Regions from separate parts of the Homo sapiens genome. Here regions 1 and 2 are each linked to region 3. Evidence: fine-mapped expression QTL. A gene starts in region 3. Each other region holds a variant in brackets. All regions are shown on one strand. Distances are from middle to middle.

Region 1 (10,492 bases), 34 kb before region 3:
GGCTGGACGTGGTGGCTCACGCCTGTAATTCCAGCACTTTGGGAGGCCAAGGCGGGCGGATCACGAGGTCATGAGATCGAGACCATCCTGGCCAACATGGTGAAACCCCATCTCTACTAAAAATACAAAACTTAGCTGGGCATGGTGGCGCGTGCCTGTAGTCCCAGCTATTTGGGAGGCTGAGGCAGCAGAATCGCTTGAACCCGGGAGGCGGAGGTTGCAGTGAGCCGAGATTGTGCCACTGCACTCCAGCCTGGGCGACAGAGCGAGACTCCGTCTCAAAAAAAAAAAATTTTTTTTTCTCACTGATAGAACTTTTGCAAAGGCGCTTTCAGCTAATTTTATTTTTTGTAGATATGGGGCCCTGCTCTGTTACCCAGGCTGGTCTTGAACTCCTGGCCTCAAGCGATCCTTCCTCCTTGGCCTCCCAAAGGGCTGGGATCACAGGATGAGCAGCTACTGCACCCGGCTGTATGATGCTTAATTTTTTTTTTTTTTTTTTTTTTTTTGGTGACAGAATCTCAGTCTCAGTCTGTCACCCGGGATGGAGTGCAGTGGTGCAATCTTGGCTCACTGCAACCTCCACCTCATGGGTTCAAGTGATTCTTATGCCTCAACCTCCCCAGTAGCTGGGACTACAGGCACCTACCACCACGCCTGGCTAATTTATGTATTTTTTAGTAGAGACGGGGTTTTGCCATGTTGGCCAGGCTGGTCTTGAACTCCTGACCTCAAGTGATCCACCAGCCTCAGCCTCCCAAAGTGCTGGGATTACAGGCGTGAGCCACCGCGCCCCGCCCGGTGGTTAATTTTATATGCCATCATGGCTGGGCTGTGGGTGCCTGCATATTTGGTCAAACATTACTCTGTGCATGCCGGTGAGGGGGTTATTAGATGAGATGAGCCTTTGACCCTTTGCATCAGTAGACTCACTGAGTCACTCAAACCCACTACCCTCCCTAGCACGGGTGGGCCTTGCGGAATTCACTGAAGGCCCGGATGGAATACAGAGGCTGCCACTCCCCTGGGGAGCAGAGAATTCCTCCCACCTGAAGGCCTTCAGACTGGAACATCAGCTTTTTCCTGTCTTCAGACTCAAACAGAAAGATCAGCTCTCAGCCGGGCATGGTGGCTCACGCCTGTAATCCCAGCATTTTGGGAGGCAGGAGACTTGAGGTCAGGAGTTTGAGACCAGCCTTTCCAACATGGTGAAACCCTGTCTCTACTAAAAATACAAAAATTAGCCGGGCGTGATGGCGCATGCCTGTAATCCCAGCTACTCGGGAGGCTAAGGGGGGAGGATCATTTGAGCCCAGGAGGCAGAGGTTGCAGTGAGCCGAGATCATGCCACTGCTCTCCAGCTGGGGCAACAGAGCGAAGCTCCATCTCAAAAAAAATAAAAATAAAAAGGAACATCGGCTCTCTTGGGTCTCCAGCTTGCAGACTTCAGATGTTGTGACTTGTCAGCCCCCGTGCATCAATACCTTATAATAAATCTCTTGGCCGAGTGTGGTGGCTCACGCCTGTAATCCCAGCACTTTGGGAGGCCAAGGCAGGCGGATCACCTGAAGTCGGAAGTTCAAGACCAGCCTAATCAACATGGAGAAACCCCATCTCTACTAGAAATACAAAATTAGCCAGGTGTGGTGGCGCATGCCTGTAATCCCAGCTACTGGGGAGGCTGAGGCAGGAGAATCGCTTGAACCCGGGAAGCAGAGATTGTGGTGAGCCGAGATTGCATCATTGCACTCCAGCCTGGGCAACAAGAGCAAAACTCTGTCTCAAAAAAAAAAAAAAAATCTCTTATTCTCTCTCCCCTCCTGCTGGTTCTGTTTCTCTGGAGAACCCTGACTAATTCACCCCCAGCTCCTCCTGATGAACGGAGGCAGGCCCTGGACAGCAGTGGGCCAGGATTTGAGGCTCTTGGTCTAACAGTCTGCAAGGAACAGAATCCTTCTGACCACGTGTGAGTGAGTCTAGAAGTGGACTCTGCCCCAGAGACACCTTGGTTGCCACCTTTCAGAGCCCTGAGACAGAGGATGCCAAAGTTAAGCCACATCTGGATTCCTGACCCACAGAAACTGTGAGATAAGAAAAGTGAATATAAGCTGGGCACGGTGGCTCATGCCGGTAATTCCAGCACTCTGGGAGGCCAAGGCAGGCAGATGACTTGAGCCAAGGAGTTTGAGACCAGCCTGGGCAACATAGCGAGACCCTGTCTTGCCCTTTTCTAAGAGGCCCACCTCTACCCCTACTCCACACATGCCCCAGCATTTACCCCACTTTCTTTCTTCCTCATGCTCACCATCCTCTAGCATGCCATACAATTCACTTATTTATTTATTTATTTATTTATTTTTGAGACAGAGTCTCACTCCATCACCCAGGCTGGAGTGCAGTGGCATAATCTCGGCTCACTGCAACCTCCGCCTCCCGAGTTCAAGCAATTCTCGTGCCTCAGCCTCCTAAGTAGCTGAAATTACAAGCGTGCTCCCTCATGCCCGGCTAATTTTTGTATTTTTAATAGAGATAGGGTTTCACTGTGTTGGCTGGGCTGGTCTCAAACTCTTGGCTTCAGGTGATCTGCCCGCCTCGGCCTCCCAAAGTGTTGGGATTACAGGTGTGAGCCACCAAGCCCAGCCCTATTTATTTATTTTTGAGACAGGGTCTTACTCTTGTCACCCAGGCTGGAGGGCAGTGACTCAATCTCTGCTCACTGCAGCCTCTACCTTCTGGGCTCAAGTGATCCTCCCACCTGAGCCTCCCAAGTAGCTGGGACTGCAGGCATGAGTCACCACGCCTAGCTAATTTTTGTATATTTTGTAGAGATGGGCTTTCACTATGTTGTCCAGGCTGGTCTCGAACTCCTGGCCTCAAGCAATCCTTCTGCCTCGGCCTCTCTAAATGCTGGGATAGCAGGTGTGAACCACTGCGCCCTACCTAATTCACTTATTTATAATGTGTACTCGCTTCCCCTCTGTCCCCCCAGTGCCTGCCACAAAGTAGAAGCCACGCAAATATGTGTTGATTTCACTGTTCCATTCACTCATTTAACAGGCAGCTGCCAGCCACGGCCCCAGAGCTCTGCTTGCCTCCCGGATTTCTGTTGGGGTCACAAGGTTCCAACTCCAGGGTCCTGAATTCTGATCTTAGATACCAGGTTTGGCCTTCAAGTTCTGGAATCTATGTTCCAGAATTCGGCTTCCCAAGACCCACAGCCCAGAATCCAGGCTCCAGAATTCAGGCTCCCCGAGATCCAGGCTTCAGAATCCGAGCTCCCTCAGACCCAAGCTCCGAATCCGGGCTCCCTGAGATCCAGGTTCCGGAATCCGGGCTCCTGGAGATCCAGGCTCCGGAATCCGAGCTCCCTCAGATCCAGGTTCCGGAATCCGGGCTCCCCGAGATCCAGGCTCCGGAATCCGAGCTCCCTCAGAACCAGGCTCTGGAATCCGGGCTCCTCCAGATCCAGGTTCCGGAATCCGGGCTCCAGGCTCGCATTCCGGGCTGGGAGCCAGCCACAGCCGTTAGGCTGAGATTTTTAAAATCTGGCGCCAAAATCCACTCCCCGGGTGGGAGTGGCGGTGCCGGGTGGAGGTCAGTGGAATGGACGGGTCGGGACTGGGGCCCTCACGGGCTGCATAGTCCCAGGGTCCGGGATTTCTCTCCCGCGGCCCCGTACCCTCTCCCCAAAAGCAGACAGCAGTTGGTCACTAACTTTCTTTTCTTTTCTTTTCTTTTTTTTTTTTTCAGACGAAGGTTCGCTTTTGTAGCCCGGGCTGGAGTGCAATGGCGCGATCTTGGCTCACTGCAACCTCCGCCTCCTGGGTTCAAGCGATTCTCCTGCCTCAGCCTTCCGAGTAGCTGGGGTCACAGGCGCCTGCCACCACGCCCGGCTAATTTTTTTTTTTTTTTTTTTAAGTGGAGACGGGGTTTCGCCATGGTGGTCATTCTGGTCTCGCACTCCTGACCTCAGGTGATCCGCCCGCCTCGGACTCCCAAAGTTGGGATTACAGGCGTGAGCCACCGCGCCCAGCCAATTGGTCACTAATTTCTAGCTCCCGGGGGAAAGAGGGTCCCGCGTTCGAATCCCGCCTCCGCTACGCCCCTGGTGCGGATTCCCCGACCGGTCCCTAACCTTCCTGTGCCTCAGTTTTCCATAATGGAAATGGGCCCGGAGCCCCCTGGCGCGTGTGGTGCCTTGGGAGGCCCCTCGGAATGGACGGGGCAGCTTTGCGGGATGCCCCAGACCTCGGGCTCTGGGCGCAGCTGCCAGCAGCAGCCTGGGCGTGGGTGCCCCCGGGGGGACCACGGTCTCAGCTGTCACCGCCCCTCCCGTTCGGCGCCAAAATTTGAAAATTGCCCAGCGCCTCCCAAACTGCGCGCTGGGAGGGGGAAAGCCCCGGGCCCCACCCACGGGAAGCGCGGGGCTTTCTGGGACTTGGAGTCCAGTCCCTGGGGGTCCCGCGGGGATGGCTCTGGGCACCCGAAGCCCCTCCCCAGCGCCGAGACAGGAGGGCTGGGGTAGATTCGAGACCCCGGTTTGCAGAGCGCAAGACTGAGGCCCAGGGCCGCGCAGTCAGGCAGGAAACGGCGCTCCTGGCGGATGGAACAGCACGGGCAAAGGCTGGGTATGGGGGTATGTGGGGATGGAAGTGCCCAGAGGGGCAGCGCGATGGGGTTGGGGGCGGGACCCCGCAGGGCCTCCAGTAAGGGGCTAGTTGGGGGATCTGGTCAGCCAGTGGCCAAGGCCGGTGGTCAGTGAGAAGTTGATGCGGAGCGGGGGGGCGGTTTCAGATCAGTCTGAGGGTG[G/C]AGAATAGGAAAAGTGACCCGGCCGGGCGTGGTGGCTCATACCAGTAATCCCAGCACTTTGGGAGGCCGAGGCTGGCAGATCACCTGAGATCAGGAGTTCGAGACCAGCCTGGTCCAACATGGTGAAACCCCGTCTCTACTAAAAACACAAAAATTAGCCGGGCGTTGTGGCACATGCCTGTAGTCCCAGCTACTCAGGAGGCTCAGGCAGGAGAATCACAAGAACCCAGGAGGCGGAGGTTGCAGAGAGCTGAGATCGTGCACTTCAGCCTGGGCTACAGAGCAAGACTCTGTCTCAAAAAAAAAAAAAAGTGACCCCATTTCCCACCCAAACCTCAATCATCCTTCTCCCCTCTGGCCCCGCCTCCTGTAGTATTATTTATTTCCCATTGTGCTTTACCATCTGTCTTTATATTTTATATTCCTCCCTTTATGAGGAAGGAAAACAGTATCAGTCCTCTAAATACGCAGTCACTGCTTAGCTCCCTCTTGCCTGGCTGGTTTATTTGTTGTTTGTTTTGAGAAAGAGTCTTGCAGCTGGGCACGGTGTCTCACGCCTGTAATCCCAGCACTTTGCAGGGCCGAGGTGGGCGGATCATTTGAGGTCAGGAGTTCAAGACCAGCCTGGCCAACATGGTGAAACCCCGTCTCTAGCAAAAATTAGCTGGGCCGTAGTGGCGCACGCCTGTAATCCCAGCTACTCGGGAGGCTGAGGCAGGAGAATCACTTGACCCTGGGAGGTGGAGGTTGTAGTAAGCCGAGATCAAGCCACTGCACTGCAATCTGGGTGACAGGGTGAGACCCTGTCCCCCCTGCCAAAAAAAAAAAAAAAGAGAGAGAGAGTCTTGCGCTGTCATCCAGGCTGGAGTGAAATGGTGCAATCATAGCTCACTGCAGCCTCCACCTCCTGGGCTTAAGCCATCTCCTTGACTCGGCCTCCCAAGTAGCTGGGGATACAGATGCACGCCACCACGACCAACTAATTAAAAAAATTTTTTTGTAGGGGCCGGGTGCAGTGGCTCACACCTGTAATCCCAGCACTTTGCGAAACCGAGGTGAGCAGATCACTTGAGGTCCAGAGTTCAAGACCAGCCTGGCCAACATGAGGAAACTCTACAAAAATACAAAAATTAGCCAGGCATGGTGGCGCATGCCTGTCATCCCAGCTACTCAGGAGGCTGAGGCAGGAGAATCTCTTGAACCCAGGAGGAGGAGGTTGCAGTGAGCCAAGATTGGGCCACTGCACTCCAGCCTGGGGGACAGAAAGACTCTGTCTCCAAAAAAAAAAAAAAAAAAAAAACTGTAGAGTATTGTAGAGTTGGGTCTTGCTATGTTGCCCAGGCTGGTCTCAAACTCCTGGGCTCAAGCCATTTTCTTGTCTCAGCCTCCCAGAGTGGCTGGGATTGCAGGTGTGAGCCACCATGCCAGGCTTCCTGCCTGGGTTCTAAGGCTGGGGGTCTATCTGGTAAGAGGGGAATAATAGCGAGTGAATGTTGGCTGTTGGAGGCAGGTGGGCTCTTTCCCCTGGTGTCCTCAGTAGGCTGGAAAGGGCATTAGATTCTCAGTGTGTGATTTACTGGGGTCTCTGGCAGAGGCTGAGCCAAACCCCCAAGGTGAGATGTGTAAAAAGGAGGAGTTCCCCAGGCAGAAGGAAGACCGGGCCAGTTCTAGGTCAGGAGGAAGTTATTCTCCAATTGGGGCAATTTTGCCCCTCTGGTGACATGTGGCAATCTCTGGAGACATACTTGGTTTTCATAACTAGGGGGCCGGGGTCGGACGCGGTGGCTGACGCCTGTAATCCCAGCAACGTGGGAGGCCAAGGCGGGCAGATCATTTGAGGTCAGGAGTTCAAGACCAGCCTGGCCAACATGGCAAAACCCTGTCTCTACTAAAAATACAGAAACTTAGCCGGGCATGGTGGCAAGTGCCTGTAATCCCAGCTACTCGGGAGAGTGAGGCAGGAGAATCGCTGGAACCCGGGAGGCGGAGGTTGCAATGAGCCGAGATCACGCCACTGCACTGCAGCCTGGGCCACAGAGCGAGACCCGCCTCAACTAAAAATAAAAATAAAATAAAAAATAAGTATGAGGCTGGGATGCTCGTGGCATGGAGTGGGTGGAGACCGAGGATGCTGCTCAATACCCTGTAATGGACAGCACCTCCTGACTCCAACCCCCTGCAACAGAGAGTGATCTGGCCCCAAATATCTAGTGCAGAGTTGGAGAAACACTGCTGTATAGGTTGTCTTGTTAAATTACAATTTTGGGGGGTTTTTTTTGGAGACGGAGTCTTGCTCTGTCGCCCAGGCTGGAGTGCAGTGGTGTGATCTCAGCTCACTGCAACCTTTGCCTCCTGGGTTCAAGCGATTCTCGTGCCTCAGCCTCCCAAGTAGCTGGGATTACAGGCGTACACCACCACGCCTGGCTAATTTTTGTACTTTTTGGAGAGACAGGTTTTTGCCATTTTGGCCAGGCTGGTCTCGAACTCCTGGCCTCAGGTGGTCTGCCCGCCTCGGCCTCCCAAAGTGCTGAGATTACAGGCATGAGCCACCGCGCCTGGCCTTGTTAAATAAAATGTATGGCAGGCCATTGTTTTAGACAATGGGGTCTCTAGTCCCCAGCAGACCAGATAAAATTGGAATGGAGTCACTAGTGCCAGGTACCACGTAGTCAAACTGATCTTTTATTTTTTTTATTTTTTGAAATAGGGTCTCGCTCCGTTGCCCACACTGGAGTGCAGTGGCGCAATCATGGCTGACTGCAGACTTGAACTCCTGGATGCAAGCCATTCTCCTGCCTCAGCCTCCCGAGGAGCTGGGACTACAGGTGTGTGCCAGCACATGTGGCTAATTATTAAAAATTTTTTTGGCTGGGTGCCGTGGCTCACGCCTGTAACTGCAGCACTTTGGGAGGTCGAGGTGGGTGGATCACGAGGTCAGGAGTTCAGGACCAGCCTGGCCAAGATGGTGAAACCAGGTCTCTACTAAAAATACAAACATTAGCTGGGCATGGTGGCGGGTGCCTGTAATCCCAGCTACTCGGGAGGCAGAGAATTGCTTGAACCCAGGAGGTGGAGGTTGCAGTGAGCCGAGATCATGCCATTGCACTCCAGCCTGGGTGACAAGAGCAAGACTCTGTCTCCAAAAAAAAAAAATTTTTTTTTTTGGAGACAGAGTCTCACTATGTTGCCCAGGATGTTCTCAAACTCCTAGGCTTAAGCGATCTCCCCATCTCAGCCTCCCAAAGTGCTGAGATTACAGGTGAGAGCCACCCGTACCTGGCCTCAAACTGAACTTTAAAGGGTGCAGGTTTTCAAAAAAAAACATTCACAGCCACCAAGCCAAAGGGGACCGGTTAACCTGATAGGGAAGTACCCTCAAAATAGAGGGGGTTAAAACAGACCCTATGAAAAAAGTAACTTTGAAACAACCAATTGGTTTTTATTTCGTATTTTTATTTTTACTTTTTTTGAGACAAACTCTCACTCTGTCACCCAGGCTGGAATGCAGTGATGTGATCAGGGCTCACTGCAACCTTGACCTCTCTTGCTCAAACAATCCTGCCACCTTAGCCTCCCAAATACCTAGGACTATAGGCGCCCAGCTAATTTTTTTTTTTTTTTTTTTTTGAGGTGGAGTCTTACTCTGTTGCCTAGGCTGGAGTGCAGTGGTTCAATCTTGGCTCCCTGCAACCTCCGCCTCCCGGGTTAAAGCAATTCTCCTGCCTCAGCTTCCCGAGTAGCTGAGACTACAGGCATGTGCCACCATGCCTGGCTAATTTTTGTATTTTTAGTAGAGACGGGATTTCACCATATTGGTCAGGCTGGTCTCGAACTCCTGACCTCATGATCTGCCCGGCTTGGCCTCCTAAAGTGCTGGGAATACAGGTGTGAGCCACTGCACCTGGCTAATTTTTTTATTTTTATTTTTAGAAATGGGGTCTTGCTATGTTGCCCAGGCCAGTCTCAAACTCCTGGGCTCAGGCTATCCTCCCACCTCCGCCTCCCAAAGTGCTGGCATTACAGGCGTGAGCAAACCACTGTACCTGGCCTGGCTTTTATTTTAATTCTTATTTCTCCTTTCTTCAGCCTTTTCTGCCTGTAATGCAGAATGCCCATCCTCTCTGCTCAGCTCATTGGAGTGCCTATTTAATAGATTGAATGCTATCCAATTCATGAATTGCTAATAAGAGCCAATGAGATCATTAAACTCAATTTGTTGAAATTCATACTCCTTGACAGCCTCTTCTGGACATTTTATATCAGTGGCATTGTACACTATATGGCTTTTTTTTTTTTTTTTTTTTTTTTTTGAGACAAAGTTTCTCATTGTTGCCCAGGCTGGAGTGCAGTGCCGCGATCTTGGCTTACTGCAACCTCCACGTCCCAAGTTCAAGAGATTCTCCTGCCTCAGCCTCCCAAGTAGCTGGGATTACCGGCGCGCGCCTCCGTAGTAGAGATGGTGTGGGGGGGTCTCCCTATGTGGTCCAGGCTGATCTCGAAATTCTTTTCTCAAGTGATCCACCGGCCTTGGCCTCCCAAAGTGCTGGGATTACAGGCGTGAGCCACCACGCCCGGCCCTATATGGCCTTTTGTGTCTGGTTCTTTGAACACGTTTTGAGGTTCTCTAAGTGGGGAAACAGGTACTAGAAAGCAACCCAACGCTGTTTCCTCGTGGCGGAGCTGGGAGTTTGCAGCCAGGAAGTCTGTCTCTGGAGTCAGCGCCTCTGCGAAGCGAGAGCTGGACGGAGACTTCAACTTCCGGCGTGCCCCGCGCGCGCCCGGCGGTCGGACTACCAGTCCCAGGCTGCCCCGCCGCGGCGGGCGGCGGGCGCGGCGCGGCGCGGCGCCATCTTGCAGCCGGCGGCGCGGATTGAATGAGCCCGCCGAGCCCGGGCCGCCGTCGGGAGCAGCGCAGGCCGCGAGCCGCCGCCACCATGGCCACGCCGCTGCCCGGCCGCGCGGGCGGGCCCGCCACGCCGCTGTCGCCCACGCGCCTGTCGCGGCTGCAGGAGAAGGAGGAGCTGCGCGAGCTCAACGACCGCCTGGCGCACTACATCGACCGCGTCCGCGCGCTGGAGCTGGAGAACGACCGGCTCCTGCTCAAGATCTCAGAGAAGGAGGAGGTGACCACGCGCGAGGTGGGCGCCGGGGCTTAGGGGCCGGGCGGGGGTGCAGCCGGCAGGCCCCGCCCACCGCGGGGCGCGCGATCGCGGGGACCCTGGGCGGGGGTGCAGACGGGGACGGGCCCCGGCTTCGGGGGTTTCCGCGGGGTTTCGGGGGGCCCCTGAGTGAGGGGTGCAGCTCGGCCAGGTCCCTCCCACCGCGGGGTGGGCAATCGCTGGGACCCTGGGTGCAGACAGGGACGGGCCCGGGTCTCGAGGGTCTCCAGGGGGTTTCGAGGGGCCCCTGAGTGAGCGGTGCAGTTCGGCCAGGCCCCGCCCACCGCGGGGTGCGTGATCGCGGGGACCCTGGGCGGGGGTGCAGACGGGGACAGGCTCCGGCTCGGGGGTCTCCAGGAGGTTTGGGGGCTTCTGAGTGAGGGGTGCTGCTCGGCTAGGCCCAGCCCACTGCGGGGCTCCCAGTCGCGGGGAACCCTGAGCTGGGATGCAGACGGGGACAGTCCGGCCTCGGGGATCTCCGCCGCGTTTCGGAGAGTCCCTGAGTGAAAGGTGCTACTCGGCCA
Region 2 (10,492 bases), 31 kb after region 3:
ATCCTCAGTCTCACTTGCCCCACGGGGAGCACTCACCAGCCCCAGGGCTCGGACGGCCACCAAACTGCACAAGGCCTGGAACCTCCCTATCACCAAGGGAAGTTCTGTGAACGCTGGAGCAGAGGTTATTAAGACCTCGACCAGCATGTGACGGTTGGTGGGGAGGGAACCATAAATGTCCTGCATGTCAAGGTCAAGGTGACTTTTTTTTTTTGAGACGGAGTCTCCCTCTGTCGCCCAGGCTGGAGAGCAGTGGCGCGATCTCGGCTCACTTCAAGCTCCGCCTCCCGGGTTCACGCTATTCTCCTGCCTCAGCGTCCCAAGCAGCTGGGACTACAGGCGCCCGCCACCACGCCCGGCTGATTTTTTGTATTTTTAGTAGAGACGGGGTTTCACCGTGTTAGCCAGGATGGTCTCGATCTCCTGACCTTGTGATCTGCCCACCTCGGCCTCCTAAAGTGCTGGGATTACAGGCGTAAGCCACCGCGCCCGGCCATTTTTTTTTTTTTTTTAAGACAGAGTCTCACTCTGTTACCCAGGCTACAGTGCAGTGGTGCTATCTTGGCTCACTGCAACCTCCACCTCCACCAGGTTTAAGCAATTCTCCTGCCTCAGCCTCCCAAGTAGCTGGGATTATAGGCGCCCGCCACCATGCCCGGCTAATTTTTTTATTTTTAGTAGAGATGGGGTTTCACCGTGTTGGCCCGGCTGGTCTCAAACTCCTGACCTCAGGTGATCCACCCACCTCGGCCTCCCAAAGTGCTGGGATTACAGGCATGAGCCACCACACCTGGCAACAAATCTTTAACAATGGTCTGAACTTGCATCTGACTCTCCAATCATGACCTGCTGCACCGTACAATTTTGTTTTTTATTTTTTAAAACCAGGTGCATACAAAATCATGCACTGTATAATTTTATTTTTTATTTTTATTAATTTTTTTTTGAGATGGAGTCTCACTCTGTCACCCAGGCTGGAGTGCAGTAGTGCAACCTTGGCTCACTGCAACCTCCGCCTCCTGGGTTCCAGCAATTCTCCTGCCTCAGCCTCCTGAGCAGCTGGGATTACAGGCACGTGCCACCACACCCAGCTCATTTTTGTATTTTTAGTAGAGACGGGGTTTCGCCATGTTGGCCAGGCTGGTCTCGAACTCCTGATCTGAAGTGATCAGCCCACCTTGGCCTCCCAAATTGCTGGAATTACAGGCATAAGCCACCACACCCGGCCTTCCATACAATTTTATTAGAGTGTAGCATTTATCCTTGATTCTACAGTAGGGGGTTGGCCAACTACGGCCATAGGCCAAATCCAGCCCACTGCTTGTTATTTTTAATAAGTTTTATTGGTAAACAGCCACACCTATTCATTTATGTATTGTCTGTGGCTACTTTTGTGCTACAAATAACAGAGCTGAGTGCTTGTCACAGAAACCCAACGGACCACAAAGATGAAAATATTAACTGGGCACGTGGCTCACACCTATAATCCCAGCACTTTGGGAGGCCAAGGCAGGAGGATCACCTGAGGTCAGGAGTCCAAGACCAGCCCAGTACACATGGTGAAACCCCATCTCACTAAAAATACAAAAATTAGCCAGGCGTGGTGGTGCGTGCCTGTAATCCCAGCTACTCGGGAGTGAGTCGGGAGCTACTGAGGCAGGAAAATTGCTTGAACCTGGGAGGCAGAAGCTGCAGTGAGCCAAGACTTCATTATTGCACTCCAGACTGGGCAACAGAGTGAGATCCTGTCTCAAAAATAAAAAAAATGGAAAAGAAAAGAGAAGACAAGACAAGACAACACAACACAACACAACACTCTGGCTCTTTACAGAACAAGATGGCTGACCCCTTATCCACACCATTAAGGCAAAGGCAATGTCAGTTTTTACATTTGTTTGTTTGTTTGTTTTTGAAACGAAGTTTCACTCTTTTTGCCCAGGCTGGAGTGCAATGGCACGATCTCGGCTCACTGCAACCTCCGCCTCCCAGGTTGAAGCAGTTCTCCTGCCTCAGCCTCCTGTGTAGGTAGGATTACAGGTGCACACCACCACGCCCAACTGATTTTTGTATTTTTAGTACAGATGGGGTGTTGGCCAGGCTGGTCTCAAACTCCTGACCTCAGGTGATCCACCCGCCTCGGCCTCCCAAAATGCTGGGGTTGCAGGCATGAGCCACCACACCCGGCCAGTTTGTTTTCTTTTTATGGGAAGGGGTGGTTATCAAAATGTATCTTGCAGCTCCTGCCCCACTCCAGCCTCCTCGTGATGGGGTTTCGGTCTCGGCTGCCCACTCACCTGTGAGCTCAGCCGACACAATTGTGCCATAGGCAGCCAGGGAGATGCCGTGCTCCCGCAGCCTTGCCCGGATCCCTCGCTGCAATAGCTCCTCCTCCAGGCCCAGGCTCAGCGTCTGGAGGGGTCGCAGCAGAAAGTGCAGCTGGAAATGTACGAGGACACTGGAGTTCCCATCCCTACAGGTATGGAGGAGAGGCCCTTGGAGAGGGAGGGGCTCCGCCCTGCTGGAATCTTCTGGAATCTTCTAGAATCTTCCAAACTTTTCTGGACTCCTCCAGAAACTCCCAGATGTCCACCAAGTTTCCTTCACCCAATGGAAGCTCCAACTCACCTATAATTCAGTACCGAGCAACCCACGCAGCTTGCCTCTAACTCTGTCTTCTGAAAACTACTTACAAACTGCAATAGAAACAAGAATATCAAATGTTGAGACCCACAGCATGGGCACCCTGGCACTGCAGAGGCCTGTCAGGTGTTGGAGGGAGCTGGAGAAGGGGTTGGTTCCATGGGAAAGCATTTCCTTTTATTATTTTAAATTTTTATCTATATGTACGTATGTATGTATGTATGTATTGTGAGACAGAGTCTTGCTCTGTCACCCAGGCTGGAGTGCAGTAGTGCATTCTCCACTCACTGCAACCTCCGCCTCCCAGGTTCAAGCGATTCTGCTGCCTCAGCCTCCCAAGAAGCTGGGATTACAGGTGCCCGCCACCATGCCCAACTAATTTTTTGTATTTTTAGTAGAAATGGGGTTTCACTATGTTGGCCAGGCTGGTCTCGAACTCCTGACCTTGTGATCCACCTGCCTTGGTTTTCCACAGTGCTAGGATTACAGTTGTGAGCCACCACGCCCAGACTTATGTTTTATTTTTAAATTTTTTATTATTATTATTATTTTGAGACAGAGTCTTGCTCTGTCGCCTGGGGTGGAGTGCAGTGGCACGATCTCGGCTCATTGCAACTTCCGTCTCTCAGGTTCAAGCAATTCTCCTGCCTCAGCCTCCCAAGTAGCTGGGATTACAGGCACACACCACCATGCGTGGCTAATTTTTTGTATTTTTTAGTAGGGACAGGGTTTCACTATGTTGGCCAGGCTGGTCTTGAACTCCTGACCTCGTGATCCGCCCACCTCAGCCTCCCAAATTAGCTGGGCATGGTGGTGTGTGCCTGCACTCCCAGCTACTCGGGAGGCTGAGGTGGGAGGATTGCTTGAGCCCAGGAGGCGTCACAGGCGTGAGCCACCACGCCCAGCCTATTTTTAAAAATTGTTTTTTAAGATGGAGTCTCACTCGGTCACCCAGGCTGGAGTGCAATGGCACGATCTTGGCTCACTGCAACTTCTGCCTCCTGGGCTCAGGCAATCCTCCCACCTCAGCCTCCCGAGTAGCTGAGACTACAGGCACACACCACCACGCCCCGCTAATTTTTGTGTTTTTACTAATGGTGGGATTTTGTCATGTTGCTCAGGCTGGTCTCAAAACTCCTGACCTCAGGTATCCACTCTCCTCGGCCTCCCAAAGTGCTGGGATTACAGATGTGAGCCACCCACCGTGCCCGCCTGGAGTGCTGTTTTTAATACGTGATTGCTGATGTGGTCACACGTCTGTTTCTCTTCGAATAAAATGGAAAACATTATTTTTTCATTAAAATATAATTCGCTGTGTCCTGTGTCCAAGCCTGGCCCCTTTTCCTGGCTGAGTCATATTCCAGTGTGTGCATAGCCACGCTGTGTTTCCCTGTTCATCCTAGGTGGTGGGTGCCTGTAACCCTGGCTACTCAGGAGGCTGAGACAGGAGAATCGCTTGAACCCGGGAGGCAGAGGTTGCAGTGAGCCATGATCCTGCCACTGCACTCCAGCCTGGACAACAGAGCAAGACTCCGTCTCAAAAAAATAAAATAAAATACCTTCCCCCAGCTGTGCATGAGGGCTCTGATTCCCCTTTAGAATAAAATGTAAAACTCTAAATGTGGCAGGTTGGGTACGGTGACTCACGCCTGTAATCCCAGCACTTTGGGAGGCCGTGGAGGGAAGATCATTTGAGGTCAGGAGTTCAAGACCATCCTGTCCTACATGGTGAAACCCCGTCTCTACTAAAAATACAAAAATCAGCTGGACGTGGTGGCGTGCACCTGTAATCCCAGCTACTCGGGAGGCTGAGGCAGGAGAATCGCTTGAACCTGAGCAGCGGAGCTTGCAGTGAGCCGAGATCATTCCACTGCACCCCAGCCTGGGTGACAGAGTGAGACTCCGTCTCAAGAAAAAAAAGAAAAAAAAAAAAACCTCTAAATGTGGCCTAAAGTCCCATGTGAGTGTGTCCTCAGTGGATACAGCTCTGCCTTGCAGGTATCTGCCTTGGCCACCTGGCCTCGTCCTGCCCGCCCCCTGGCCTGGCCTCCCGGTCTCACAGCCTCCACCTCAGCTTCGTTGCCTGTGGCCTGCCTCCCTCCCACACGGAAAGCACCTCCAGGTCAAAGCCCCCGGCCACCCGCTCTTCCTCCCTGGCCCCCAAACACAGACCACCCTCACCAGTGCCTCCAGGGTGGGCGTCAGCGTGCGGTGATAGTCCGAGGTCTCCCGCCGCAAACTGCTGGTCCACCGGATTCCCCGCAGCTCGGCCGTGTGGTCCACGTGGAAGCCCTGTGTAGAGAGGAAGGCTGGGGACGAGACCAGGGCCCGTGAGAGAGCCCACCTTTGGGGGCTCAGGGCTCCGCTGAGCTGCCACCCAGGCCCCGCCCTGTTTGCACTCACACACCCTGGTGGTCACTCCTGACACGCAGTGGGGTGGTCGACGCCCCCGTGATAGCCCTGAATAGCTACTCACAGGGCTCTCCCTCAATTCCCAAAAGCATCCTGGTTTGGAGCCGAATTCTATGACAGCCACCCACCCGGAGGTCCCCAGGTACAGCACAAGGTGGATGAGTGCCAAGTGAGCCCCAGATGCCCCCGTGTTTTCCTCGAAGGCAGAAAGAGGTCCTGCTCATGCCTGTCTCCCATGCAGTGCCTGGCCCAGGATCTGAGCTGACTTCAGGGCGTAACCTCTGGAATGGCATCAGGAGACGGTGAAATGACAGTCCCCGCCTCCTATGGCAGGGGCATGAGCACAGCCAGAGGCCATCAGGACTCTCCGGCCACAGTCCCATGAGGTCATCTTCAAAAACCACTGGTTGGTTTGTGTTTGTTTGTTTGAGACAGAGTCTCGCTCTGTCGCCCAGGCTGGAGTGCGGTGGCGCAATCTCGGCTCACTGCAAGCTGCGCCTCCCGGGTTCATGCCATTCTCCTGCCTCAGCCTCCCGAGTAGCTGGGACTACAGGCACCCACGACCACGCGTGGCTAATTTTTTTGTATTTTTAGTAGAGACGGGATTTCACTGTGTTAGCCAGGATGGTCTCTATCTCCTGACCTCGTGATCCGCCCTCCTCGGCCTCCCAAAGTGCTCAGATTACAGGCGTGAGCCACCACACCCGGCCTGTTTGTTTTGAGACAGAGTTTTGCTCTTGTTGCCCACACTGGAGTGCAATGGCATGATCTCGCCTCACTGTAACCTCCGCCTCCCGGGTTCAAGCAATTCTCCTGCCGCCTCAGCCTCCGGAGTAGCTGAGATTACAGGCATGCACCACCATACCCAGCTAGTACAGATGGGGTTTCTCCATGTTGGCCAGGCTGGTCTCAAACTCCCGACCTCAGATGATCCGCCAGCCTTGGCTTCCCAAAGCACTGGGATTAACAGGCATGAGCCACCGCGCCCGGCCTTGTTTGTTTTGAGATAGGGTCTCACTCTGTCACCCAGGCTGGAGTGCAGTGGTGTTTTCTCAGCTCGCTGCAACCTCCATCTCCCGGGTTCAAGCGATCCTCCTGCCTCAGCCTCCTGCCTCAACCTGCTGAGTAGCTGGGATTACAGGCGTGGACCACCACACCTGGCTAGTTTTTTTGTATTTTTAGTACAGACTGGATTTCACCATGTTGGCCAGGCTGCTCTGGAACTCCTGACCTCAGGTGATCCACCCGCCTTGGCCTCCCGAAGTGCTGAGATTACAGGCGTGAGCCACTGCACCCAGCGTTAATTTTTGTATTTTTAGCAGAGATGGGGTTTCGCCACATTGGCCAGGCTGGTCGGGAACTCCTGACCTCAGGTGATCTGCCCGCCTCAGCCTGCCAAAGTGCCGGGATGACAGGCGTGAGCCACCACGCCAGGCAGAAAGCACTGGTTTTTAGCTGTTGGCTGTGTTGTGTCCAAAGTACAAAGTACAGCAAAAATAATAGTCATAAAAAATTCCTATGCTGATGCAAGCAGCAGCAGAAAAAAATCTAAATAAAAACTACGAGAGCAACCACAGAAA[C/T]CATGAGAGCACGAGTTTTGGTCAAAAATACGTTAAAACTACCAGAAGTGCACACCAGCGCAAAAAAAATGGCCGTAATTACAACATTTAAACCATGCAAATAGCAACCGCGTAAACCGTGAAAGCTGGGTCCCAATTCCGTTTATCCTAAATGGATAGATATGCTAGATGGGTATTTACGTAGCCATATATTCAGTAGATAGAATATTCTGAACCAATTCTAAAAACGGTATGTTTTCTCGTTCAAGAAACTAAAGAAACACGAGCACCCTGGTGGGCGGACTGAATTGCCCCGCCTCTGTGTCCCAACCTCACTCTGTTTCTACTCTAAACAACTGCAGATTCAGGAAGTTGCAGAAATAGTTCAGAACGCCTCCCGCTCTCCACTCAGCCTCTCATCTCCAACTAAAATGGTGAGCTGTTTGCGAAGGGCTGAATTCTCATTTTTATTTTTTTAAATGTTTTATTTTTTTGAGACAAGGTCTCTATTGTTCGGGCTTCAGTGCAGTGGCACAATCACTGCTCACTGCAGCCTCGACCTCATGGGCTCAGGTGATCCTCCTGCCTTAGCCTCCCAAGTAGCTAGACCACAGAGACCACAGGCGCCCACTATCACGCCTGGCTGGCTAGCTTTCTCTTTCCTTCTCTTTTCTTGACACAGTCTCACACTCTGTTGCCAGGCTGGGATGCAGTGGCACGATCTTGGCTCAGTGCAACCTCTGCCTCCTGGGTCCAAGCGATTCCCTTGCCTTAGCTTCCCGAGTAGCTAGGACTACAGGCACATGCCACCATGACCAACTAATGTTTTTTGTATTTTAGTAGAGACGGGGTTTCATCATGTTGGCCAGGATGGTTTCAATCTCCTGACCTCATGATCCGCCCAACCCGGCCTCCCAGAGTGCTGGGATTACAGGTGGGAGCCACCGCGCCCAGCTTTTTTTTTTTTTTTTTTTTTTTGGAGACATGGTCTCCCTTTGTTGCCCAGGTTGGAGTGCAGTGGCATGATCTCGGCTCACTGCAACCTCCACTTCCCGGGTTCAAGCAATTCTCCAACCTCAGCCTCCTGAGTAGCTGGGATTACAGGCGCGTACCAGTCTGCCCAGCTAATTTTTGTATTTTAGTAAAGACAGGGTTTCACCCATGTTGGCCAGGCTGGTCTCAAACTCCTGACCTCATGATCTACCTGCCTCAGCCTCCCAAAGTGCTGGGATTACCGGGGTGAGCTACTATGCCTGGCCCTGGCTAATTGTTTGCATTCTTTTGTAGAGACAGGGTTTCCCCATGTTACTGTGTCCGAAATTCGTGGGTTCTTGGTCTCACTGACTTCAAGAATGAAGCTGCGGATCCTCACGCTGAGTGTTACATTTCTTAAAGATGGTGTGTCCGGAGTTTGTTCTTGCTGATGTTCGGATGTGTTCGGAATTTCTTCCTTCTGGTGGGTTCGTGGTCTTGCTTGCTTCAGGAGTGACGCTGTAGACCTTCCCAGGGAGTGTTGCAGCTCTTAAGGCAGCGTGTCTGGAGTTGTTCATTCCTCCTGGTGGGTTTGTGGTTTTGCTGGCCTCAGGAGTGAAACTGCAGACCTTCACAGTGAGTGTTACAGCTCATAAAAGCATCTCACACCCAACGAGTGAGCAGCAGCAAGATTTCTCGCAGAGAATTAAAAAACAAATCCTCTACACTGTGAAAAGGTCCCCAAGCCGGTTGCCGCTGCTGGCTCCAGCAGTCCGCTTTTATTCCCTTATCTGGCCCCACCCACATCCTCCTGATTGGCCCATTTTACAGAGCGCTGATTGGTCCATTTTACAGAGAGCTGACTGGTCCGTTTTGACAGGGTGCTGATTGGTGTGTTTACAATCCCTGAGCTAGACGCAGGGTGCTGATTGGTGCATTTACAAATCTTTAGCTAGACACAAAAGTTCTCCAAGTCCCCACTAGATTAGCTAGACACAGAACACTGATTGGTGCGATTGGTGCATTTGCAAACCTTGAGCTAGACACAGGGTGCTCATTGGTGCATTTACAAACCTTTAGCTAGACTTAAAATTTCTCCAAGTCCCCACTAGATTAGCTAGACACAGAGCACTGATTGGTGTGTTTATAAACCTTGAGCTAGACACAGAGTGCTTATTGGTGCATTTACAATCCTCTAGTTAGACATAAAAGTTATCCAAGTCCCCACCAGATTAGCTAGACACAGAGTGTTCACTGGTGCATATACAATCCTCCAGCTAGACATAACAATTCTTCAAGTCCCCACTCGACTCAGGAGCCCAGCTGGCTTCGCCCGGCCCTGGCTAATTTTCTGCATTTTTTGTAGAGACAGGGTTTCACCATGTTACCAGGCTGAACTGGAACTCCTGGGCTCAAGCAATCCTCCCGTTTCAGCGTCCCAGAGAGCTGGGATTACTGGCGTGAGCCACTACGCCTGGCATCATGTCCTTTTTTCTTTTTCTTTTTTATTTTTTATCAGGGTGTCACTCTGTCTCCCAAGCTGGAGTGCAGTGGTGTGATCATAGCTCACTGCAGGCTCCAACTCCTGGGCTCAAGCAATCCTCCCACCTCAGTCTCCCGAGTAGCAGGGACTACTGGCACGCACAACCACTCATTTTCACTGAAAACATTATAAAATTTTAATTTTAAATGTTTCTTGTCTTCATTATTTAATTTTTTGTAGAGATGGGGTCTTGCTATGTTGCCTAGGTTGGTCTCGAACTCCTGAGCTCAAGCAATCCTCCTGCCTCAGCCTCCCAGAGTGCTGGGATTACAGGCAGGAGCCACCACACTTGGCCTTAAGTGCTTCTTGAAAGACTTCCTGATGGGGCGTGGTGGCTCATGTCTGTAATCCCAGCACTTTCGGAGGCCAAGGCAGGTGGATCACTTGAGGTCAGCAGTTTGAGACCATCCTGGCCAATATGGCAAAACCCTATCTCTACTAAAAATACAAAAATTAGCTCGGCGTAGTGGCACACACCTGTAATCTCAGCTACCCAGGAGGCTGAGGCAGGAGAATCGCTTGAACCTGGGTGGTGGAGGTTGTGATGAGCTGAGATTGTGCCACTGCACTCTGTCGCGCCTGGGAGACAGAGTGAGACTCCATCTCAAAAAAAAAAAAAAAGACTTCCTTTCCTTTCAGGGGGGTCCTGATGGGAATTATATTTATCTGTTTTTCCCAAAATGTATTTGTTACAATGCAGATGAGAAACTCTGCCCCGCCCCTGCCTCTCACTAGGTGATGGACACACACACACACACACGCATGCACACATAGATACACACGCAGACACACACATGCATGCACAAACGCATGCAAATGAACACGTGTGCACCATGCACACACTCATGAACACACAAATACACTCACACGAGGAACCCAAATTGTATTGTACTTGGTACCTACAGCCACTAGAGGGCCTCAGTCAAACATGTCTGGCTCTGGGAGTTTCCAGAAGTTCCACAAATATTTTTTAAAAAAAAGAAAAAAGAAAAAAAAAAACCTAGGAGGATTCTCATAGGATCGCGAACTTACTATTTTGCCACACGAGAGCATTTCTCCCCAAATTGCTGTTTATTATCATCATTTAAATGTTAAAATTAACTTTTTTTTTTTTTTTTTTTTTTGAGATGGAATTGCTCTGTTGCCCAGGCTGGACTGCAAGGGCATGATCTCGGCTCACTGCAATCTCTGCCTCCTCCTGGGCTCAAGCAATTCTCCTGCCTCAGCCTCCCAAGTAGCTGGGATAACAGGCGTGCACCACCATGCTCAGCTATCTTCCTTCCTTCCTGCCTACCTGCCTGCCTGCCTCCCTCCCTCCCTCCCTCCCTTTCTTTCTTTCTTTCTTTCTTGTATTTTTAGTAGAGAT
Region 3 (10,492 bases):
GGGACAAGATGACTGGAAAGACCGGGGCACAGGGGTAATGGAGTGACCTAGCTGATGGGGGTGACCAGGGTCAGGGTGACAGGGCCGCCGGTCAGGACGAGGCAGGGGACAAGGTGACTGGAATGACCAGGGCATGGGGGTAATGGGGTGACCTAGCTGGTGGGGGTGACCAGGGTCAGGGTGATGGGGCCACCAGCCAGGGCGATGGGGGCGGTGTCACAGTCCTGGTGGCTGAGGGTCAGGTGTGTGCCGTGTCTTCCAGGATCAGTCTCTGGGGAACTGGAGAATCAAGAGGCAGGTCTTGGAGGGGGAGGAGATCGCCTACAAGTTCACGCCCAAGTACATCCTGCGCGCCGGCCAGATGGTCACGGTAGGTGGTGGGGCAGGAGGGCGAGGGTGGCCACGGATGGGGTGTGAGGTGGGGTCAGGGGACTGGAGGCACAGGACTTGGCGGGGGTGGGTGGGGATGATGGTGGCACCAGGCACCGTCTCAGAGCGGCTGCCGCAGTCATAGAACCTCCATGTGCTGGTGTCACCCCACTGGGCCTCCCTGGAGCCTGAGTGGTGTGCCCTGGGTCTGAGTCCAGGCTGCTGGGGCTGGCAGGCGTCCCCGTGAAGTGTTAACAGTCAGGCGCATGGGCCATGGAGCCTGGTGGGTGTCAGATCCCAGTTCAGCCCCTGCTTGCCAAGAGCCCTTGGCCTCTGTGAACCCTGGTCTCTTCTTGTGTATCCTGGGGACCATCACCCTGGATAAGCCTGCGTCGGGCTGGAAGGACTGAACGCCCAGGGCATTGAAGGGGGCTTTGTGGTAGGGGCCACTGGCTGGCCCACGTCCCTGGAACCAGAGGTGACCCTGATGGGGCCATTGTTATTGGGTCCTCAGGTGTGGGCAGCTGGTGCGGGGGTGGCCCACAGCCCCCCCTCGACGCTGGTGTGGAAGGGCCAGAGCAGCTGGGGCACGGGCGAGAGCTTCCGCACCGTCCTGGTTAACGCGGATGGCGAGGTGGGTGTGTGTGGCTTGGGGGGTGCTCGGCTGGAGTCCTGGGCAGGGTCTGGGCACCCTCGGGGCCGCCACAGCAGCTCTGGGCCCGATCCCGGGACATGCCGCCGTGTCCTGTCCCGCACAGGAAGTGGCCATGAGGACTGTGAAGAAGTCCTCGGTGATGCGTGAGAATGAGAATGGGGAGGAAGAGGAGGAGGAAGCCGAGTTTGGCGAGGAGGATCTTTTCCACCAACAGGTAGGACCCCTGTGCCCACTTGCGGCTGGGGGGCAGCCTCTGGGGCAGAGTGAGCTCGTGCACACACATACACATGCGTGCTGGCCGCATCCCCGACGGGAGCTCCATCTGGCTGCCGTGGCTCAGGGTGAAGCCAGCCTTGGCTGTTACCAGCACGGCAGAGACCTGTTCTTGCCTCCTGGGTCGTGCCCATCGTGTGAATTTGCGACATCACAGACCTCAGGGTAGCTGGCCAGGGGGTCCCCTGAGAGGTGGGTGTTGAACAGCTCCCCAAATGCTCTCTGGTCAACCGGCTTCCTCAGTCGAAGACACAGGTCCCTTCAATACTGGCTTCTGGGGAGAAGATGAGTGCAGAAACCACAGCTGCATTAAACGCGTGCGTCGCAAGTTCCTGTGACTGTTTTGGAACCCAGAACAGAATGTGTAGCTCACAGGCGGGCTCATGGGGACATGGAAGTGGAATGGAAGGCTCTAGAAATAGACACTGTTGTTGCTCAGCCCCTCCCTGGTGGGGAGGTGGGGGCAGCCATCTACCTGCCGGCTGCCTCCAGGCTGGCCCTGATCATGGCCGACCTTCCTTCCTTCCTTCCTGCAGGGGGACCCGAGGACCACCTCAAGAGGCTGCTACGTGATGTGAACCCACACTCCTCATCCACACACCTTTCTTTACCCAGAGCCACTGAAAACTATTTTTATATCATTGGCTTTCTTTAGTTCTTGATACATTTCTAGAGAATTTCTAAGCGAACTGCCAGAACGTGTGGGTGGGTCTCCCCCAGCCCTCCCTCCTGGCGGGTCTCCTCCAGCCTCACTTCGCTGCCACTTCGCCGCTGCCCCGGAGACTTTTCAATCCCACCCCACTCCTCATCTCACCATTTGGTCAAATTGGAAGCCCAGGGCCAGGACCCGGAGGTTTAGAAGATGCTTGGGCTTGGAGGGAGGAGGGCCGGCGAGGCTAGCGAGGGGACAGGAGACGGCCCTGCTGCGGACGGAGCGCGGAAACTGCGTAGGAATTCAGTGGTGGTGGGTTTTTTTAAGGCTTTCTACAAAACCAAATTCAGAATCCAGGCGTCGACCTGGTGGGGCCCGGGGCCAAGCCTGCATTCTGGCTGCCCAGCTTCGGACAGCGGGAACTCCTCAGGCAGCCACGCAGCGGGTGTGGGCCAGCATGGGGATGGCGTGGCCCCCAGGGCGGGTTTTCACTCCGCTGCCTGGGCTTCCAGATTCCCGTTCTGGCAGCGCACCGGCCGGGTTTCTCGGACCGTTGACTTTATTTGGGGGAGTTTTCCCGCAGTTCAGTTCCTGACTGTGCAAGGCCAACAGGGCAGGGGAGGGGAAGACCTGGGGAAGGAAGAATGAGGACAGTCCCGTCGTAAGACCTGTCACAACAATAAGCAGGGAGGGGAGATGTGGAGGGGACACATCTGGTTGCCTTGGAGGCAGAAGCTGTGAGTTTCAGAACAGCTGTCTGCAGGGAACGCCACCATGTTGACCCTCTGGAGGAGAGCGCTGTGGAGCCCCTCCCGTGTTCCAGCTCCGTCTGCCCTGTGCCTATATATACACATGCGTCTATCCATACTGTGCTTTTATCTGTGATTTTCTCGCTGAAACCATGTTTCTCAGACAGGCCAAGGCCACCTGACTCCTATCACGACGCACCCAAGCCCCTCAGTCCAGCTTCCCAATGCCTGGCACCCCCCTTCGGCAATAGCTCACCGTTTACACCCTCCCTCATAGATACACAGAAGTTATTTTTTTAATGGATATTTATTTTTTTACATTGGTCAGTACACAGGTCAGGAGCTCACGCCAGGGCCTTGAGGACAGGCTGACCCTCCTCCCCGGGGTGGCGTGGGGCTGGGGCACCCTCCGACGGCAGAGCCTCCTTCAGAAAGTGCAGCTCAAGTCTTAAAGACACCAAAACTGAGCCATGGGCACGCGCCGTCTCCGGGCCATGGCGTTCACTGCAGGGCGGGGGCGGCACCGCTCCCCTGTGACTGCATCCCGCCTCCCTGGGGACCTGCCTGTGGCAGGAAGGAATGGGGGGCCCCAGCCCCAGGCCGGGAAGGAGCCAGCGGCCGACAAAGCAGAAACACCCGCTGCTCCACGTAGCCCCTGCTCGCTGTCCTTGCTCTCAGAAGTCCCGGTCCCATGTAGATAGAGGGGGGCGCATCTTACCAAAGCATTTCCTCCTGGAGGCTACGCCGCTGTGCTCCCAGTCAGGCGGCTGGTAGGGAGCTTTGCCTGCCCCGGGGATACCCTCTGCCAGCCGCTGGAAGTGGGAATGCTGGCGACAGACTGTGTCCTCTTTCCCACCTTCATAGCAGGAATCACCCGGACCCGACTGGCTGGGCTTCGTGCTAGCGAGGGTTCTGGGGGTGGGTCTTGGTGATCTTGTCCTATGGGGAGTCTGCAGTGGTCTCAGCCACATCCTATGTATTTTGGCTCTGGAGGAGCAAAGCTGTATCCTGGAGTTGGTCTGTGATTTGCCGACAGCCTTGCAGGCTGGGCTCAGGGACAAAGTCCCCCCCAAAACCCGCAGGTCCTCATGTCCAGACGCTGCCCAGTCCTGTCCTGAAAACAGCACGCCCCAGGCCCACAGAACCCCCCACCCTACATTTGCCTTGGGTGGAGCTGGGGGTGGTCCTAGGACTGCGGGTGCCCTTAGCTGAAGGGGGTGGGGAGAAGCGTGGACTGGGCAGCCTGTGGGTAATTGGAGGTTCATTGAGAATTGAGTCTTTGGAAACACTAAGAAAATCAAATTTTTAAAAGTTATTTATGGCCTGGGAAACAATTTGCATTTGTCCCCAAATACGCTTAGCTGTGTGCCGCTTAGAACGATGCGAAACCATCCCTCTGTGTAAGCCCGTGCCGTGTGACTCGAAGCCTAGCGCCCTCCCTGCGAAGCATCAGACGCCACCCAGCCCTGGGGGGAGGCCCACGCCTGCTGGACCAACGCGGGTTCTGGGGTGCACAGCGCCAGGTTAACGCTGAAGCCTGCCCCGCTGAGCCCAGGAGCCGGGAGGCCTGCGGGCTGACCCAGAATCCGATCATGCACCTGTCCTCATGCCAGCGGCTTTGGCTGGGGTTGGTCTGAAGCCTGCACGCGGCAGTTCTTTGTTAAAGATCTGAGGGACTCCTCAGTCCTGGGGCGTCGCCGCCTGCAGCCTCTTCCAAGCCCTGCGTCCAGCGAGCGTCACAGCACAACCTGCAAAAACGGAGCTGGGCTGCAGCTGGGGCTGGCATGGACTTTCATTTCAGAGATTCGGTTTTTAAGAAGATGCATGCCTAATGTGTTCTTTTTTTTTTCCAATGATTTGTAATATACATTTTATGACTGGAAACTTTTTTGTACAACACTCCAATAAACATTTTGATTTTAGGTTCTGCCTCTGAGTTTATTCCTGAGGGGAAGCTCGAGCCGGGGCCTCTGCCCTAATGAAGCGGATGTCTAAGAAAGATCCCTCCACCCCCAAGGAAAAAGGTCACTGGCTAGTGTAGCTAGTGTAAACAGGACCCAGGCGATGCATGGGACCCTGCCCTTTTTTTTCTAGTGAGCCTCCGACGCTGTTGCACAAGCTGACTCTTCGTCACGTGATGCGACCGGGCTCCGCCCCGGCGGCAACACGCTGTATAGACGCGCCGGGTGCCTCGTGCGCATGCGCGGCAGGCCCTTCGGGACGAGCTGGAGGCAGAGCGTGAGTACAAAGTGATCGGCCTCGGCCGCACGTAGTAGCCCCCCTACTCCCCGGCCAAGTCAGGGCCTCCCTCTTCCCGCGGAGTCGCAACCACGGGTAGCTCGTGTAGGTAACGGCAGGTCCAGGCCTCCGCATGAGCGGAGGGCCCCCCGCGCGACCTTGAATGGCCCGGGCGCGCGCGGTCGTGTGGGAGTTGTAGTCCTCCGTCCCCGTCCGCGCGGACTCCGTTTCCCGTGGTGCCCCGGGCGGCCCGCTTCCGGCGCAGTTAGTTACGAGTCGGCGCACGCGGCCTCGGTCCGGTTGACTTTGCGGAGCCATGGAGGGCGGCTTCGGCTCCGATTTCGGGGGCTCCGGCAGCGGGAAGCTGGACCCAGGGCTCATAATGGAGCAGGTGAAAGTGCAGATCGCCGTGGCCAACGCGCAGGAGCTGCTGCAGGTGCGGGGCTGGCCGGGGACGGGCGCTGGGGGCGACAGGGCCACCCCTGGGGGCCGACGTCGCGGCTAAAGCCTCGCGTGTCTCCACAGAGGATGACGGACAAGTGTTTCCGGAAGTGTATAGGGAAACCTGGGGGCTCCCTGGACAACTCCGAGCAGGTGAGACCCGCGGAGGTTCGGGGCAAGGGTCGCGAGGGCCTAGATTCGAGGGGGGAGGTGTCTGCGCGTGCGCAGACTAACGGGGAGGTGCGACGGAGTGGTCACTGCACGTGCGTAGTCTGCAGCCCGGGCGTCCTGGAGCCGGGGTCAGGGCGGTCCCCGGGGCCGCGAAGTCCCGAGCTGAGCCGTGCGCCCCTCCGCTCCCGCAGAAGTGCATCGCCATGTGCATGGACCGCTACATGGACGCCTGGAACACCGTGTCTCGCGCCTACAACTCGCGGCTGCAGCGGGAACGAGCCAACATGTGACCGGCGAGCGCGGGCCACCCCACCCTGTTCATTTCCATAAACGTGCTTTGAGAGGCGGGGTCCGCATGTACGTACTGCCTGCCCGGGGCTTAGGAGGGTGGCACCGGTGCTGGGACACACGGGACTGTGTCCTCGCCACCCCCCGCCCTGCCCCCTGCCAGCCAGTGCAGCTTGGATCTCGGGGGTGTGGGGCCCTGTGCCTTCCTGAAGTGCTGGCAGCCCAGTGGCACCTCCTTCAGGCCTTTGGGGTATTCCCCTAGTGTGCCCAAGTCAGCCTCATATTCTGGGCGGACAGCTTGTCTGGACTTCGGAGTTGGGGGTGGTCAGACACCACAGGAGCTGTCACCTCCTGCGGATGGGCAAATAAATTGGTGGAGGACGGAGAGAAACCTCTTTATTTCCCTCCTGAGGGGTCTCTGGGAAGAGGTGACGCGTGTCCCTGGAACCCCAGCTCGGAGGGTCTCAGCCTCCCCTGGGTTGGGAGAAGTCCATCTTTCCCCTTAGTGCCACCGGGCTGCTGAGTCACGAGGAATGTGTTGCTGCTGCCACCCCTGCCCCAAAGGCTAAGGGGGACAGCCTTCCCCTTGTCAGGGCTTGCTTTGACCCTGCTTCGTTCCACCCCGGGTCCTGGTGGAGCACCAGGCAGGTGGTCCTCGCTGTGACACTGAGGTGCTGAGCCAGTGAGCTAGGGTGGAGGGGCTGTGTTTATTGGAACAAAGGGTGGTACCAAAATGCATCCCCATGACCCACAGCCCCCCCACACCCGTCCTTGGGTAGGGTACGGTGGGGTGGGGTGTTGGGTGGCCTGCTGCTCCTGTTGCTTTCACGTAGAGTCTCGGCCTGGGCAGTCACGTGGTGGTCACTCCTGGATGTGCTGTCCTATCCAGCCTCTCACAGCTGCCACCCGGGTATAGACACCTGGGAAGTGGGGCCGGCCACAGCCATAGCCCCAGCTAGTGACCCCAGTTAGCACCCACCGTCCAGAGGGCTCCCTGCAGGCCAGGGGTCCCCCAGCGTCACCCTGTTGGGGAGAGAAGAAAGGGGGTTCAGAGGCCGGTACCTCCCCTACAGCAGCCCTTGGGTCATTGGCCCCTCTAGGAGTGACCCTAGTGACTTCCCCTGGGAGCCGCATTTTCACTATCTGGAAAATGGGCTCAATGCAAAGGTGGCAGACATTTATGGACACCCGCCACGTGGTCCCGGAGTGGAACGGTGCCTCCCACTGCAGCCTCTGCCTGCTCTGCCGCCGAGGCCCGGGGATGGGATGCGGTGGGTTGCCCAATAAACGGCTGTGGAGTGGAAATTCCTCCAGAGCCAAAAAGGCTCCCTGCTTGATCCGCTGGAGAAGCCTGCACCGGAGGGTGGCTCCCGGATGGTGGGCTTCGTGGCAGCGGGAACCCGCCCTCCCCGGCGGCTGGGCGGGACCTGGTCCCCTGGGCCGGGGCGGGGCTCACCGAGCAGCTGTCCACGCCACCCTGCGGGAAGCCGGCACACAGCATGCGGCTGCTGATCTGCACTGGGTAGAAGCGGCGGCAGGTCTGCTCGCTGAGGAGGCGCACGGCCGCCTTCTGCAGCTGCCGCGCCATGGAGCCTGCGGGCGGGCGAGCGAGACGGGGCGGGTGGGGACCGCGTCCGGCCGCCCCCCGAGCCCCGCACCACCGCGGCCCCGGGCGCGCCTACCTCCTTCGCGCACCGAGCCCCAGCCGGTGATGACGCAGCGCGTGCCGTCCGGGGGTCGCGGCGCGGGCTCGGGCAGGCAGATGGGACGCACCAGGCGGCTGCGACGCACCGGCCCCGCCAGCTCCAGCAGCGCCACGTCGTAGTCGAGCGTGTAGAGATTGTAGAACGGGTGCTTGTAGATGCGCGCCACGCGCTCCAGCTGCCCCTCCGCGCCGCTCAGGAACGGCGTGCCTAGGAAGGCCGCCCACTGCTTGGGGTCCCCGTAGCTGCGGGGCGCGCGAGGACAGGCGTCGGCCCGAGCCCCCACGCCCCCGGCCCCCGCCCCTGTGGTGTCCCCCAGCGGCCGGCTGGCACCCTGGGCAGGGTTATTGGCCTCTTGGTCTCTGGCTGTCGGTCTGGGAATGGGCTCAGTCTCCCCCATCAGGCACCGAGGCGGCACCGGGAACTGCAGCCGTCACCACCTAATATGAGCGCTCTGAAAAGGGGTCTAGTGGCCGTGCGAGTCCCGCCCCCCGCCTGCCCTCCCCTTCTGACCTCCAGCCCTGCAGAGCCCAGAGCTGGGTGTCCCCTCTGGAAAACCGGACCCCTCGACTGCCAGGGCTTGGGCCCTGGGGAGGGCAGCTTTCTACTGGGTGGGCTTTGGGGGGCTGGAGCCAAGTCCCAGGGGCGAGGGCTGGGGAAAGAAGTGACCCCAATGTTCCCGTGGGCTTAGCCTGGAGCTGGAGGGGGGGGGCCGCAGCTTCCGGGTTAGGTGGGGACCGCGGGGTAGGACTCGGCCTTCGCAGCCCCAGCCCCGTGTGGTCAGGCTAGGGGGTGGGTGGTCAGGGGAGGGCTGCAGGGAGCGAGGATGGGGAGATGGGGGGTGGGAGGAGTGGCCTGGGGCAGTGGGAGCCGGGGTTGGGGAGGGCACTCCCGGCAAAGGAGGGGGTCAGGGTGCGTTTTCGGGCAACAGTTCGGTTCCGGGTGAGCTACAGAGACATGTAGGGGCATTTGGAGCGTTTGGAACTCACACGTCGAAGCAGTGCGCCGCCGACAGCAGCCACCTCTCTGCCACCAGCACGGCCCCGCAACGGTGTTCCCGGCGCCGCAGCCACAGGCTCACCTGCCACGGCCACTCCCCACGGCCCGCTGCGCTGCCGCCCACAATCCTGGTGAGCGCGGCCGGCGCCAGGCCACAGTCTGCGGGGGAGCCAGGCGCGTGGGCAGGCGGACCCAGGGCACCTCCTCCACGAAGGCCCCCCTGGGCGCCGCCTCTCCACGAATCCCCCTGGGAGCCCCAGGGAGTAGGTTGTGATGGGGGACCTATCCCAGGAAAACTCAGCAGGAAAGGACACTGGGCCTGCTGCTTGGTCTTTGGGCTTTTCTCAAATAACATTGGAAATGCATTTGTTTCCTATGACTTCAGTTTTGGGACCATACGTTTCCCCTGCCGGAGGCCCCTCTCATGGCAGCCTCCCACATCTCCGTCTTCCAGGAGTTCCCTCCCACCCCAAGGCCTTTGCACACACCAGGGCCCCGCCCCAGAGGCCCCAGCCCTGCCTTGGTGCCCTCTGCCTGGATCCCTGATCACCTCCAAGCCCTCCCCAGACGGTGCCAAGCGCAAAGGCCTTCCTCAGAACCCAGCTGTGGAAAGAACACGTGGGTGGTTTCCAGGGGGTTTCAGGGACCCTGTTACCACCCATGGAGGGGGTCCCATACCCACCTGCTGTCTCCAGAGGCGTGTTTTCCTCCTCAGGGGCAAGCCCCCCCGCCGCCCTCTATCACCACCCAGCTGGCTTCCCTGGGTCCCCCCCGCCCCCCACCCCCCACCAACCGCCATCCAACCCGCAGCAGCTACCAAGGCCAGTAAGGGGAAATGCCAGTTCCCCACCAGCCTTGGCACCGTCTGGCCCTGACATAAGACCAGGTGGCCTTGGATAATCTGACAGCAGCCGCAGCCGCTGTCCTTGGGAACACCAGCTACCTCCACACAGAACCCGCCTGTATTTTGAGGGGGGCCTTCTCCACCTCTTTTGGGCCCAAAGAGATCCCACGCCATAGCTATTGAAAAAGTCAAAATCAGCTGAGACTGAGAAAGTGAGAGCCCCCAGGCTGCAGGGACAGACCTACATGAGGGCAGCTGCCAAGTTAGCAAGAAACACGCACCCAAGGACATGGCACAGCTGTGAACCATCAAAGTCCCTGCTTTCATTTTTTTTTTTTTTTTTAATTTTTTTAGAGACAGGCTGTGTCACCCAGGCTGGAGTATAATGGCATGATCTCGGCTCACTGCAGCCTCTGCTTCCTGAGCTCAAATGATTCTCCTGTCTCAGCCTCCCCAGTAGCTGGAACCACAGGCATGCACCATCACGCCTGGCTTTTTATTTTTATTACTATTATCTAGCTGGAGTCTCACTCTGTTGCCCAGGCTGGAGTGCAATGGCACGATCTCGGCTCACTGCAACCTCCACCTCCTGGGTTCAAGCGATTCTCCTGCCTCAGCCTCCCAAGTAGCTGGGATTACAGGCACCTGTCACCATGCCTGGCTTTTTTTATTTATTTTTTTGTAGAGATGGGGTTTCACCATGTTGGCCAGGCTGGTCTGGAACTCCTGACCTCTGGCGATCCACCCGCCTTGGCCTCCCAAAGTGCTGGGATTACAGGCATGAGCCACCGCGCCCAGCCAGAGAGGCCGTTATGTCTTTTTCTTTTTTGAGACGGAGTTTCGCTTGTTGCCAGGCTGGAGTGCAGTGGCATGCAGCTCACTGCAAGCTCCGCCTCCCGGCTTCATGCCATTCTCCTGCCTTAGCCTCCCGCGTAGTTGGGACTACAGGCGCCCACCACCACGCCTGGCTAATTTTTTGTATTTTTTTAGTAGAGACAAGGTTTCACCGTGTTCGCCAGGATGGTCTCGATCTCCTGACCTCTTGATCCGCCCGCCTCGGCCTCCCAAAGTGGACGACGTTATGTCTTGTTAGGCAGCCCAGGCTGATTA

What was found. PIP is the estimated chance that this variant, and not a neighbour inherited with it, causes the effect.
Region 1: its variant is fine-mapped to the expression of TIMM13 in whole blood (INTERVAL, PIP above 0.99).
Region 2: its variant is fine-mapped to the expression of TIMM13 in whole blood (INTERVAL, PIP 0.99).

The regions. Positions count from the first base shown.
Region 1 is chr19:2,456,125-2,466,616 of GRCh38, reverse strand. LINC01775 (long intergenic non-protein coding RNA 1775) reads left to right here and starts at 4,432. Exons shown (of 2, transcript NR_134931.1): 1 at 4,432-4,636; 2 at 7,517-7,680. It overlaps LMNB2 (lamin B2), which reads left to right and starts at 9,658. Exons shown (of 12, transcript NM_032737.4): 1 at 9,658-9,947. The coding sequence starts at 9,684. RefSeq lists silencers at 4,176-4,245, 9,560-9,739, 9,860-10,109, 10,170-10,259, 10,490-10,492. The variant G/C (reference allele first, on the strand shown) is at 4,810.
Region 2 is chr19:2,390,996-2,401,487 of GRCh38, reverse strand. TMPRSS9 (transmembrane serine protease 9) reads right to left here. Exons shown (of 19, transcript NM_001395513.1): 3 at 4,822-4,949; 4 at 2,626-2,693; 5 at 2,295-2,470. Among named protein-coding and RNA genes, the nearest start is that of TIMM13, 31 kb to the left of the region's middle. RefSeq lists an enhancer at 7,025-7,114. The variant C/T (reference allele first, on the strand shown) is at 6,633.
Region 3 is chr19:2,422,294-2,432,785 of GRCh38, reverse strand. It overlaps TIMM13 (translocase of inner mitochondrial membrane 13), which reads left to right and starts at 5,200. Exons shown (of 3, transcript NM_012458.4): 1 at 5,200-5,372; 2 at 5,462-5,530; 3 at 5,740-7,161. The coding sequence starts at 5,253. The coding sequence ends at 5,838. It overlaps TMPRSS9 (transmembrane serine protease 9), which reads right to left. Exons shown (of 19, transcript NM_001395513.1): 16 at 8,529-8,697; 17 at 7,519-7,784; 18 at 7,293-7,429; 19 at 6,525-6,859. The coding sequence ends at 6,698. It overlaps LMNB2 (lamin B2), which reads left to right. Exons shown (of 12, transcript NM_032737.4): 9 at 263-370; 10 at 884-1,003; 11 at 1,128-1,238; 12 at 1,834-4,620. The coding sequence ends at 1,875. RefSeq lists enhancers at 4,730-4,879, 4,964-5,709, 5,710-6,453 and a silencer at 5,430-5,519.